2 separate regions of the Homo sapiens genome follow, and region 1 is linked to region 2. The links come from fine-mapping of genetic effects on gene expression. A gene starts in region 2. The other region holds a variant in brackets. All regions are shown on one strand. Distances are from middle to middle.

Region 1 (5,366 bases), 58 kb after region 2:
TTGGTGGCCTGAGGCTAAGGTGGGAGCATTGTTTGAGCCTGGGAGGTCGAGGCTGCAGTGAGCTGAGATCATGCCACTGCACTCCAGCCTGGGCAACAGAGTGAGACCCTGCCTCAAAAAAAAAAAAAAAAAGAAGAAGAAGAAGGAGAAAATCTATATCTCCACATTGCTGCACCCTATCCCAAGATAATCATGAGTAATAATTTGGTGTATATGACTCAAGAATTTCTTTTGTAATTATAATTTTATATAAAAATAGAATTATGCTATTCATGCTTCATTGGTAATTTGCTTTATCTCATTTTACATCTTTGAGATATTTCCACGTCATTACACAGAGAGCTGTCTTACTCTTCCTTTTTTTTTCTTTTCTAAAAGCAGCATCGTGTTCCAGTGTACTGACAAACCATTGTTTAACTCATCCCCTATTAATGGGCATTTGGATTGTTTCCATTTTTAAAAATATTTTCAAACAAGACATCCGTTTACTTATGTCTTGGCATACTGTGTGAGTACTTCTGTGGGCTACATTCCTAGAAGTCAGAAGATATGATAAAATTTAATAGAGGGTGACAAATTGCTTTCCCAAAAGGTTACACTGATTCACACCCGCCCCCAGAAGCGGATGAGAGTGCCCGTTTTCCTAGCCTCTTGCCAATGCTAAGCACTATCAATCATTTTTATCTTTGCTAATCTGATTGGTGAAAAAATGATATCTTGTTTTCATTTGCATCTTTGACATACTAGTGAGCATCTGCTCATAGGTTTATTGGCCTTTTCCTGTGAACTGCCTTTTCATGTTCTTTCAAATCTTTTTTAAATGCATTTTTACATTCTTTTGGATTTATCACAAAAAGACAATTCCTTCCCAATTAAGCCATGGTTATGAGGCTTTCTTATTCCTACAGCTTACAAGATGCTTTATGCAAGGGCTTTTATTCTGGAATGATGGAAATGCTCTGAAGCTACAGTGGGGGTTGCACAGCACCATGAGTACTAAATGCCATGGAACTGTTCACTTTCTTTATTTTATTTTATTTTATTTTTTTTAAGACAGAGTCTAGCTCTGTCGCCCAGGCTGGAGTAAAGTGGCTAGTAAAATCCCGCCTCACTGCAACTTCCACCTCCCGGGTTCATGAGATTTCCTGCTTCAGTCTCCCACGTAGCTGGGATTACAGGTGCATGCCACCACGCCCGGCTAATTTTTGTATTTTTAGTAGAGACAGGGTTTCACCATGTTGGCCAGGCTGGTCTCGAACTCCTGACCTCAGGTGATCCACCTGCCTCGGCCCCTCCCAAATGCTGGGGCGTGAGCCACCACGCCCGGCTGAACTGTTCACTTTCAAATGGTTCATTTTATGTTACGTGAGTATCACCTTGATAAAAATTTTTAAGATGCTTTATGCTAATTTCAGATTGATCATCAACAGGCAGAAGCTCCCAACTTTGTGTCTAAAAGTCCCTCCTGCCTCTTTCCTCCAGTGAATGACTGTTAGCAGGAACTTCAGGCCCGAGGTCTGCCAGCCCTCATTCTCCAGCTCTGCCAATTCAGTGTCTTAGGACTGCGCATATCTGAGAGATATTCTTTGTCCAAAAAGTATGTTTTCATTAAAAACTATGCACAATGATTCTGAAATCTTTCTAAAGCTCCTCTTTACACATGCTTTCCAGTGTTTTAATCGTTTAAGGAAACTGTCCTGGATTTTTCTCTCTACCATAAAACATGGCATTTCTCAGTCATTTTTTCTTGTGCCTTCTGGGAAAGAACTGTTTACAACAACAACAACAACAACAACAACAACAACAAATCCCGGGTGGTCCTGGCCTTTTGAGGACCTGTCTTATCTGAGATACATTTCAAAACCATGATAGTCTTCAAGCCTGAGCCAGCTGCTGCCAGTTCCCTGACTTCCTTCTCCTGGTGGTGGTGGCAGTGGCAGTGGTGGTGGTCGTGGTGGATCACTGAAACATTCTCCCTTCGAACTTCTCCTGCCTCCATCCTTCTTTCCAGCCATACCCAAGACACAGCCAAACCAAAGGCAGAAGCTCCCCTCCAGGGCTGACCAGGTAAGATCCCAAAGCCAGGGCTGTGTCGAGGCCCCACAGCGCTGAGTAGAGGATGGGGTCAGGGCTAGGGTCAAGGGTCAAGTCCTGCCCTGTTTGACCTTGGACAAGTCACACAGCCTCCTGAAGCTCGGTGGGAGAATAGTTAGCAGGGCTGTGGATGAGGGAATGGGATGACAGTGCAGGCCCTGCTGTACTCGAGGCACAATCGTCAGTGTTTCTTGTGAGGGCTCACAGGGGCCAAAGCACAGGGGCCCACGTGCATGTGCAGGATGGCATCAGGAGGGAGGAGA[T/C]GCCACTCTAGGATGCTGGGCTGCAGATGCCCTGCTCCCTGGCTGTGGACTCCCTGCTCCCCAGCAGCGGACGCCCTGCTCCCCGGCTGGTGTCCTCCCCGTCTCGTGCCTTCAACCATCCTGTGTTCCTGACTCCAGCCCAGCCTCTCCCGGGACCTCCACAATCCAGAGTCTGATTCGTGGGTTCCCACCTGAATGCCAAGCAGGCATCTCAAGCTTGCCTTGTCCAGTCTGACCCCTGGTTTATCTCAAAGCTATCTTTCCCTTGTCCTCCTCATCTCTTTAAAGGTCCAGTCCATTCTTCTGACTTCGAGAGGTGTCTTCTCTCACACCTCCTGTTCCCTCCATTAGCAAACGCTGTTCGCTTTGCCGGCAGGATATATCCAGAATCTGACCCCTCTTTTCTGCCCTCAGGGCCAAGCCGCCATCAGCTCTCACACCAGTTTCCCGAATCTTGCTTCTACCTTTGCGCCCCAGAGTCTGCTCTCTGTACAGAAGCCAGACATCATTCTAAAGCATCAATCAGAACATGTCACTCCCCTGCTCAAAACCCTCCACTAGCTCTCGCCTTACCCGGGAAGGAACCAGAGTCTCCAGGGTGCCGTGTGCCTGGCACCAGCCCGTACCTCTGACCTGCTCTCCCATGCCCCCTCCTTGCCCATTCCACTCTGGCCTCACCAGCCTTCGCGGCATTTCCCAAACCCCAGACGCCTCCCACCTTCACTCATTGGCCCTTGCTGATCCACTGTCTTTCCTCCAACCGCACAGCAGCCCCTCGCTTCCCCCTCACTTTCTTCAAGTCTCTGTCTGGATGCTCAGATGTCCCCTGCTCTCCAAGGCCTTCCCTGCCTCCCCACCTTTTTATCCTGCCTTTTCCTTTTCCTTTTTTTTTTTTTCTTCTTTGCACAGACCTGATTACCACATACCTACTACCTTGCTACTTGTTCACGCCATTGCATCACCTGCCCCCGCCAACATGTAAACTCCACAGTGATGGAAACTGTTCTGTTTTCATCATCTTCAGCACCTAAAACGGTACCTGGCTCACGCAGGGTGTAAACAAAGGAGGGCTAGCAATTAAAGTTAAAACTCCTTTGAGACCCAAGAGTAAGAAAAAATCAAACAATTGTTAGTAGCCAGGTAAAACTATGTTTTTCTTAATGAGAGGAGAATAGGAGATAGCATTAGCAACTTTCCCAGGGCCCCAGGGTCTGTGTCCTTCCTGGATTCTGCACATCTCACCTCCACACAGGGCCACATGACCTTGGTGAGAATTACTTACGTTATCTGTGCCTCAGTCTCCTCCTCTGCAAAGCAAAGAGGATGATAATAGTAGCCAAGCTGCCTGCAGGTCCCTATGTGGAGACCTGAAACAGGTTGGGGGCAGAGAACTTGATCCACGCCCCCTGCAATGGGAAGCTCCGGGTGCTTACCTGCACATTTTGGTAGTAGCATTAAAAAGCTTCACTTTGTAGCCACTGTTGCAAATAAGCAGGAAGAGTTCCCTGGTGAGTGGTGGGTACCAGACCATGCAGGTGGGATAGCAGCCCTGGTCGGTGTGGTGAATGTCCAGGACTTCCAGGTGGTCTTTGTAGCTCCTGAGAAGATCATACTCTATCTGCAGAGGAGCCCAGATGGACACACATGAGGACCAAGCCAAATTAAAGGCTCAGCTAAGGAACCCCAAGCTCTTGGGTGACAGCCTTTATAATTATCAGCCAACAGTGCTGTTCTGGGGGAGACGGTATCAGGTCTCCTAAGAGAAGACTTGCCTAGACCTGACACTGACTAAGTCATCAGTACTGAGAATTCACTACCTGGAAGACAATGAGCTGAGTGCTCTAAAAACAGCTGTCATGTCATCCTCAGAACTTCCCTGCAAAGGGGTACTGTTCTGCCCATTTTACAGATGAGAAAACAGATGTTCAAGGATGTTCAGAGTGGCTTGTCCAAGGTCACATAGCTAAAAAGTGGCAGAGTAAAAATTCAAAAATTCAAATTTAGATCCAGCTGATTCCCACACCTGACGTCTTACAGTTCTGTTATACTGTGTCACTTATTATCTTAGGAACTAATTCATATCTAAATCTCAGCCCAACACTTGGCAGTCACAAATCAGTAGCCACTGAACTGGGCCCATACAGGTATGCTTCCGTGGGCAGGGCAGAATGGATGGATGGATGGGTGGATGGACGGATGGATGGATGGATGGACAGATGGATGAATGGATGGAGAAACTGAATAAAGGAAGGAAGGGGAGAGAAAGAAGGGAGGGGCGGGGGAGGGAGGGAAGAAGAAAGGGAAGGAAGGAAGGGAGGGAGGGAGAGAGGGGGAGAAGAAAGGAGGGAGGGAGGGAGGAAGGAAAAACAGACAGATACAATGACTGGTTGAATCCATTTCACCTGACTCTGTAATATTGCGTTTGCCCATCCCTACCTTTTCCTCTTATCTCACAACCTCTCCTAGTTTTCACATTTAGGTAGCAGCCTGGCCCCAACTGATGGACATGAAGACAGTGTTAGTGAGTGTCAGCCCTCCCCGTGCACACTGGGAGGCAAGGGCGGCTGCTTTCCAAGCTATGGGGAACTCCCCGCTCCTTGCCTTCTAACTTGTTGCTGCCCGGGAAGCCTCCTCGTTCAGCACAGGAGTCCCCAGGTGGTGTCCCAGCCATGTTAAGGCAAAATGCCAACCTGGAGAGGTTTGTGATCCTTCACTGTGCATTCATTTTCTCCAACAAACACACGTACTGTGGGCCTGGCTCTATGCAAGATGCCAGGGATGTCACAAGAGTGAGACACAGTCTTGGCGACCAGGTCAACGAAAACTAAACAGCTCACCAAGAGCCTGTCTGTCCCAAGGCTCAGCAGTCTAGGCTCATTGCTGTCCAGGTAAACCCCAAACAGGAGACTTCGAATGCTTTTGCGATGAGAGCGAAGTCTTGCTAAGTACTCCCAGACCCTCTGTCCATTTCTGACCACCAGCATGTAAACAGCCACAGTAAAACTTCTA
Region 2 (5,366 bases):
CAGGCCTGGTCCCCGCGGGGTCAGCGGGCTGGAAGGCCTCCAGGCCGGCCGCCCCGGGGCCCGCGGGGTGGGAAGCCCCATCTCTCCATCTGCCCTCCCTGCAGAGCAGCTGGCCGCTCTGCGGGAGCAGCTGTCAGGGTGCAGGAGCCTCTGTCCAGCCGGGAACCTGGAGTAGGAGGCCCCACCACGCCTCCTCGAGCAGAGAAAGGCGGCTTGCCGGCTGTTTCCCAACCTCCAGGCCGGCGACAGAAGGGACCCAGGCACAGACACCAGTTCTTTCTTTGCACAGGGGCTGAGGCAAGGAGGGGAGCAACTCCGGGCTTCCCGCGGGGAATCCCACAGTAGAGGGGGCTGCGGGTTGTTTTCCAGCGTGTGTGTGTTGGCCTGCAGCTGTTTCTGCCATTTTTAAATGGCTCCAGTCGGGCACCGGGCACCCTGTGTACCAGGGGAGCTCCCGAGACACCGACGACTTGGATCTCAACTTTGGAAAGCCTCCCCTTCTCACGGTTCTGAAAATTCTTTGTCCCACTGGAGCCAAACCCAGCCCACGGCCGGGCATCCGGCCATCGCAGCCAGCCCTTTCCATAGGAGGCCGGGGAGCACGTGGACTTTATTGATTTTCCTCTTGCCTTTTTTGTTGGGTTTGACTCAGAAAGGACAGCTAACTTGTGACACCGCCACACCGGAGGCTCGCCCCCAGTGGCTTTTAGAGACCGAGGCGCTACTCGAGAAACGACACCCCCAAACGTAAACATCCCCTGCCACAGGGCCTGCCCAGCTTCCAGGCTCGAAATAAAGGGTCGAGACGAGCCCGCGGGCGCTGACACTCAGAGCCAGCGTTGCGGCGGCTCCTCTCCCTCCGGGACCCCAGTGAAGGCGTGGGAAAAAAATAATAAAGTTGAAATCAGGCAGCGGGGAGTTTTCAACAACTCTGACCCAACCTGGCGATCTGCTTGCGCCTCGGGCCTGGCCCAGGGGCCGATTCCGAGCAGACCCCGACGAGGCCGCGGAAAGGTTCGATCCCCTTAATGTCGACCGGGCCACGCCGGGCGGACGCTAATGTGATCCCGAAAACCACGCGCGGCCGCCACCAAGTCCCCCTCTCCCCGGTGCAGAGAACAAAAACAACAGCTCCCTCCGCAAAACAAACACGAGCTCCCGGTGTGGAGAGGCAGCCGCGGCCCAGGACGAACGGCTTCTGGCCAAAAACATCGGCTGGCCCGAGCCCCCCGCCCGGGGCGCCGCGCAGAGCGGGGTGGGACGTGGGCGCCCCGCGCCCCTGGCCGCTGGCTCCCAGCGCTCGCCCCCATCTTTCCTGGTCGCCGAGAGCCCTCGCTCCAGGCAGCCCAAAGCGCTAAATTTAAACGGCTCGCGCTCTGCAAACTCCGCAGACTCGAGGGCGCCGGGCCCGGGAGGCGGGAGCGGGCGGCCGGGCGGGCCGGGGCTGGCGGAGGGCGGCGGGGCGCGGGCCGGGGTGCGCGGGGAGGAGACGGCGGCGGCGGCCCGCTCGGAGCCTGCACAATGGAGCTCGCGCTCTCCCCGCCGCCGCCGGCATCGCGGCCCCGGCGCGCGGGAAGCCGCTTTCATGTGACTTGCACAAAACGAAATGGCTTCTGGGGCCGGCCCCGAGCCCCCCTCCCGGGAGCCGAGCGCCGCGGCGGGGGCCGCCCCGCCGCTCCAACCGCCTGGCCCCGGCGCCCGCCGCCTCCGGGCCGCCGCGCCAGGTGGGCTACAGGCGCGAGCGCACCTGGGCAGCGGCCGCGGCCCCAGCCTGGCGCAGGTGACCCGGCTCGCGCGCCGCCCGCCCGTCCGCCCGCCCTCGCCAAGTCCCGGGGCCCGCGGCGGGGCTGGGCCGGGGCAGGCGGCCGGGGCGCTGCGCCCCGCGGCTCTCTGGAGCCGCGCTCGGGCTCGGGGCGGCCGGGGAGGCGGCTGGCGGCGGGCGCCTCCGCTTACCATTTGCGCACTTTCTCGATCGCCGCCATGACCCTCTTGATATCATCTTTGGCCCGGCTCCTCGTCTCGGCTCGAACCGACCTGCCCGACATGGTTCCGGCGGGGAGACGGAGGCTGGGGAGCGCGCCCGCCGGGTCCTGCTCGCGCTCCGCGGCGGCCACACTCGCGCCCGCCCGCCGCTCACTCACTCGCGCACAGACACTCGCACTCTCACACGCACACACTCACACACACACACACACACACACACACATACACACACACACAAAGCCCGGGGCCGCCGCGCGCCTGGCCCAGTGCGCAAGCGCCGGGCGGCAGCTGCACAGAGCAGGGGGAGCCGCGCCGCCGCCGCCGCCGGCAGTGCGGCCTCCGGGCGCCGCGGCCACCGGGCAGCGCCCCCGGGCCTCCTGCGCCCCCAGAGGGGACGCCCCGGACGCCCTCCTGGGGAGGTGGCGAAGGGCGCACGGCGACCCCCGGCTCTGGGCGCGCGGTGGGGGCGGGCGTGCGGACACGCGCGCTGACCCTTCCTCGGAGGCTGCAGGTGCCGAGGGGTCCATGGGAGACAGCCGGTCTGCGGGGCGCGGGGGGGTCGCGTTCCCCGGGAGCCAGCCCAGCTGCCCCTGCCCAGCCCCCAGAGCGCGGCGGCGGGTGCAGTCGTGCAAGTTTCTTGCGGGTCTCTTGACTTCTCCGAGTTGAAGGCACCGGTTCGGGACGCGAGGTGCTCTTGGAAAGAGTTGGGCATCGCGCATCTCTGCTGGCCCGCGGCCCTGTTCAAATGCGAGCTAGGACGTCGCCTGCCCCAGGCTTTGTCCTTTTGGAAAACTAGGGTTGTAGGAAGGTGCCTGGTGCCAGGCAGACCACCAGAGACTCTCGACCTTGAGTACTAAAGAGTTTTCTGCTCAGCAAAAGCTCAATGATGATCAGCATCGTAACAGGGACTCTTCCTCCCGCCCCCAGAAGTTCTCTTGTCATAAACAAGGCGAGGGGGTCTTCGCTGAGCTTCACCAGAGGACCACGATTTCACCTTAAGCCATTCCTGACTTCAGTACCAGACTGAGACCAGGCGCTGCTACTGCCCAAATGACCCCTGGTCCCATCTACAAGGAGCACTTTTGAGGCCTCAGAACAGAGCCCCGGGGAGAAATCTGCGATGATCAGGGTAACCTGGGTGCCGCATCTTGCTGTTCAGCTGCAGCGGAACCGGCCGGACCAGAGCTAATGCGCGCCCAGAATGAAGAGGGAGACCGAGAGTGGCCCAAATGTCAGCGCCCCGGGCCTGGAGATGACAGCCCGACAGCAGCCATTTCACAGCTGGGGAAACTGAGTCCTGGGAAAGTTTAAGGTTGCAGCCTTAAGTTGTTACTCATTCTAGACGTTTCCCCTGAGGGTTTGGTCTTTGGGGAACACGCTACTGTGGAAATGGAGAGACCGCAGGCCTTTTCCTAGGCATTTGTTTTTACTATTCTGAAACGCAGTCTCCTGACGTGAAAAATGAAGAAAAGAACAAATACTGGCCGGGCGCGGTGGCTCATGCCTGTAATACCAGCACTTTGGGAGGCCGAGGCGGGTGGATCACTTGAGGTTAAGAGTTCGATACCAGCCTGGCCAACATGGTGGGTGAAACCCCGTCTCTACTAAAAATACAAAAATTAGCCGGGCGCGGTGGTGGGCTCCTGTAATCGCAGCTACTCGGGAGTCTGAGGCAGGAGACTCGCTTGAACCTGGGAGACGGAGGTTGCAGTGAGCAGAGATCCAGCCACTGCACTCCAGCCTGGGAGACAGAGTGAGACCCTGTCTCAGAAAAAAAAAAAAGGCCGGGCGCGGTGGTTCATGCCTGTAATCCCAGCACTTTGGAGGCCGAAGTGGGCAGATCACGAGGTCAGGAGTTCGAGACCAGCCTGGCCAACATGGAGAAACCCTGTCTCTACTAAAAATACAAAAATTAGCTGGGCGTGGTGGTGCAGGCCTGTAATCTGAGCTACGCGGGAGGCTGAGGCAGGAAAATGCTTGAACCTGGGAGGCAGAGGTGCAATGATCATGCCATTGCACTCCAGCCTGGGCAACAGAGCAAAACTGAATCTCAAAAAAACAAAACAAAACAAAATAAAACAAAACAAAACAAAAAAAGAAAGAGAGAAAGAAAAAGAAAAAAAAGAGAAAGAGAAAGAAGGACTTCAGAGAATCGTTCCGAGAATTTTCTGGGAAAATATGCAACAGCAGGTCATAAAACAGATCTCACAGAGATATGTGAGATCAATAGGTATGTGCTTTGGGCCACATGAAACTTTAAAAAAATGTATCTTAAAATTTAAAATAGGAAAATATTATGTCAGAATTCAAATAGTGACTGAGGAACAGATAAATGTGTCTATCCACACAATGGAATATTATTCAGCCATAAAAGGGAATGAATACATGCTACAACATGGGTGAACCTTGAAACACGCTAAGTGAAAGAAGCCAGTCACAAAAGGATAAATATGCGTAAGTCCATTTGCGGGAGATATCTACAACTAGGCGAATCCATAAAGACAGATATCAGATTGGTGGTTGCCAGAGGCAAGGGGGAGGGAGAGCAGGAGTGACTGCTAACGGATGTGGGGTTTCCTTTCGGAGTGATAGGAAAGTTCTGGAATGAGATAGTGGTGATGGTTGCAGAACAATGTGAATGTACTTAATGACGCTGAATTGTACACTTTTAAATGGTTACAATGGTCAATTTTATGTGTATTTGATCATAATAAAAAGAAATCTAGGCTGGGCGCGGTGGCTCACATCTGTGATTCCAGCACTTTGGGAGGCCGAGGTGGGTGGACTGCTAGAGGCCAGGAGTTTGAGACCAGCCTGGGCAACATGGTGAAACCCCATCTCTACAAAAAATTCAAAAAATAGCCAGGTGTGGTTGTGCGCATCTGCAGCCCCAGCTGCTCAGGAGGCTGAGGTGGGGAAGATGGCTTGAGCCCAGAACGTAGAGGCTGCAGTGAGCCAAGATCATGCCACTGCATGAAGCAAAGAAAGAGAGAGAGAGAGAGAGAGAGAGAAAAGAAAGAACGAAAGAAAGAAAGAAGAAAAGAGAGAGGGATGAGGAGAAGGAGAGAGGGAGGGAAGGAAGAAGGAAGAAAAAGAGGGAAGGAGGGAGGGAGGAAGGAAGGAAGGAAAAAAAAAAATACCCAGCTTCTCTAGAACCAGCAGATCTGCAAACTGGACCCTCAGTGCCACATGGCACCCATCGGCTAGAGCAGAGAGCTCTGTCTGTATCTTTCAGACAGAGTTATCTGGGTCACCAGTGCACTCATAGCCACTTTACTCATTTGTGTTACCTGTCTGGCCCCTGAAAGTATTTGTGATTTTGATCCCCAATAAAACCATAAAGCTTTCTTCAAATGTCCTTTGTAAATCTAGTATGTCACTTT

Evidence for each region. PIP is the estimated chance that this variant, and not a neighbour inherited with it, causes the effect.
Region 1: its variant is the best candidate, but not a certain one, in a credible set for the expression of BCL7A in tibial nerve (GTEx, PIP 0.68).

Annotation. Positions count from the first base shown.
Region 1 is chr12:121,960,587-121,965,952 of GRCh38, reverse strand. CFAP251 (cilia and flagella associated protein 251) reads right to left here. Exons shown (of 22, transcript NM_144668.6): 14 at 5,195-5,366; 15 at 3,791-3,975. Among named protein-coding and RNA genes, the nearest start is that of CFAP251, 45 kb to the right of the region's middle. The variant T/C (reference allele first, on the strand shown) is at 2,358.
Region 2 is chr12:122,018,771-122,024,136 of GRCh38, reverse strand. BCL7A (BAF chromatin remodeling complex subunit BCL7A) reads right to left here and starts at 2,253. Exons shown (of 6, transcript NM_001024808.3): 1 at 1,954-2,253. The coding sequence starts at 2,045. RefSeq lists silencers at 1-54, 1,535-1,694, 1,845-2,164, 2,295-2,374 and an enhancer at 885-1,700.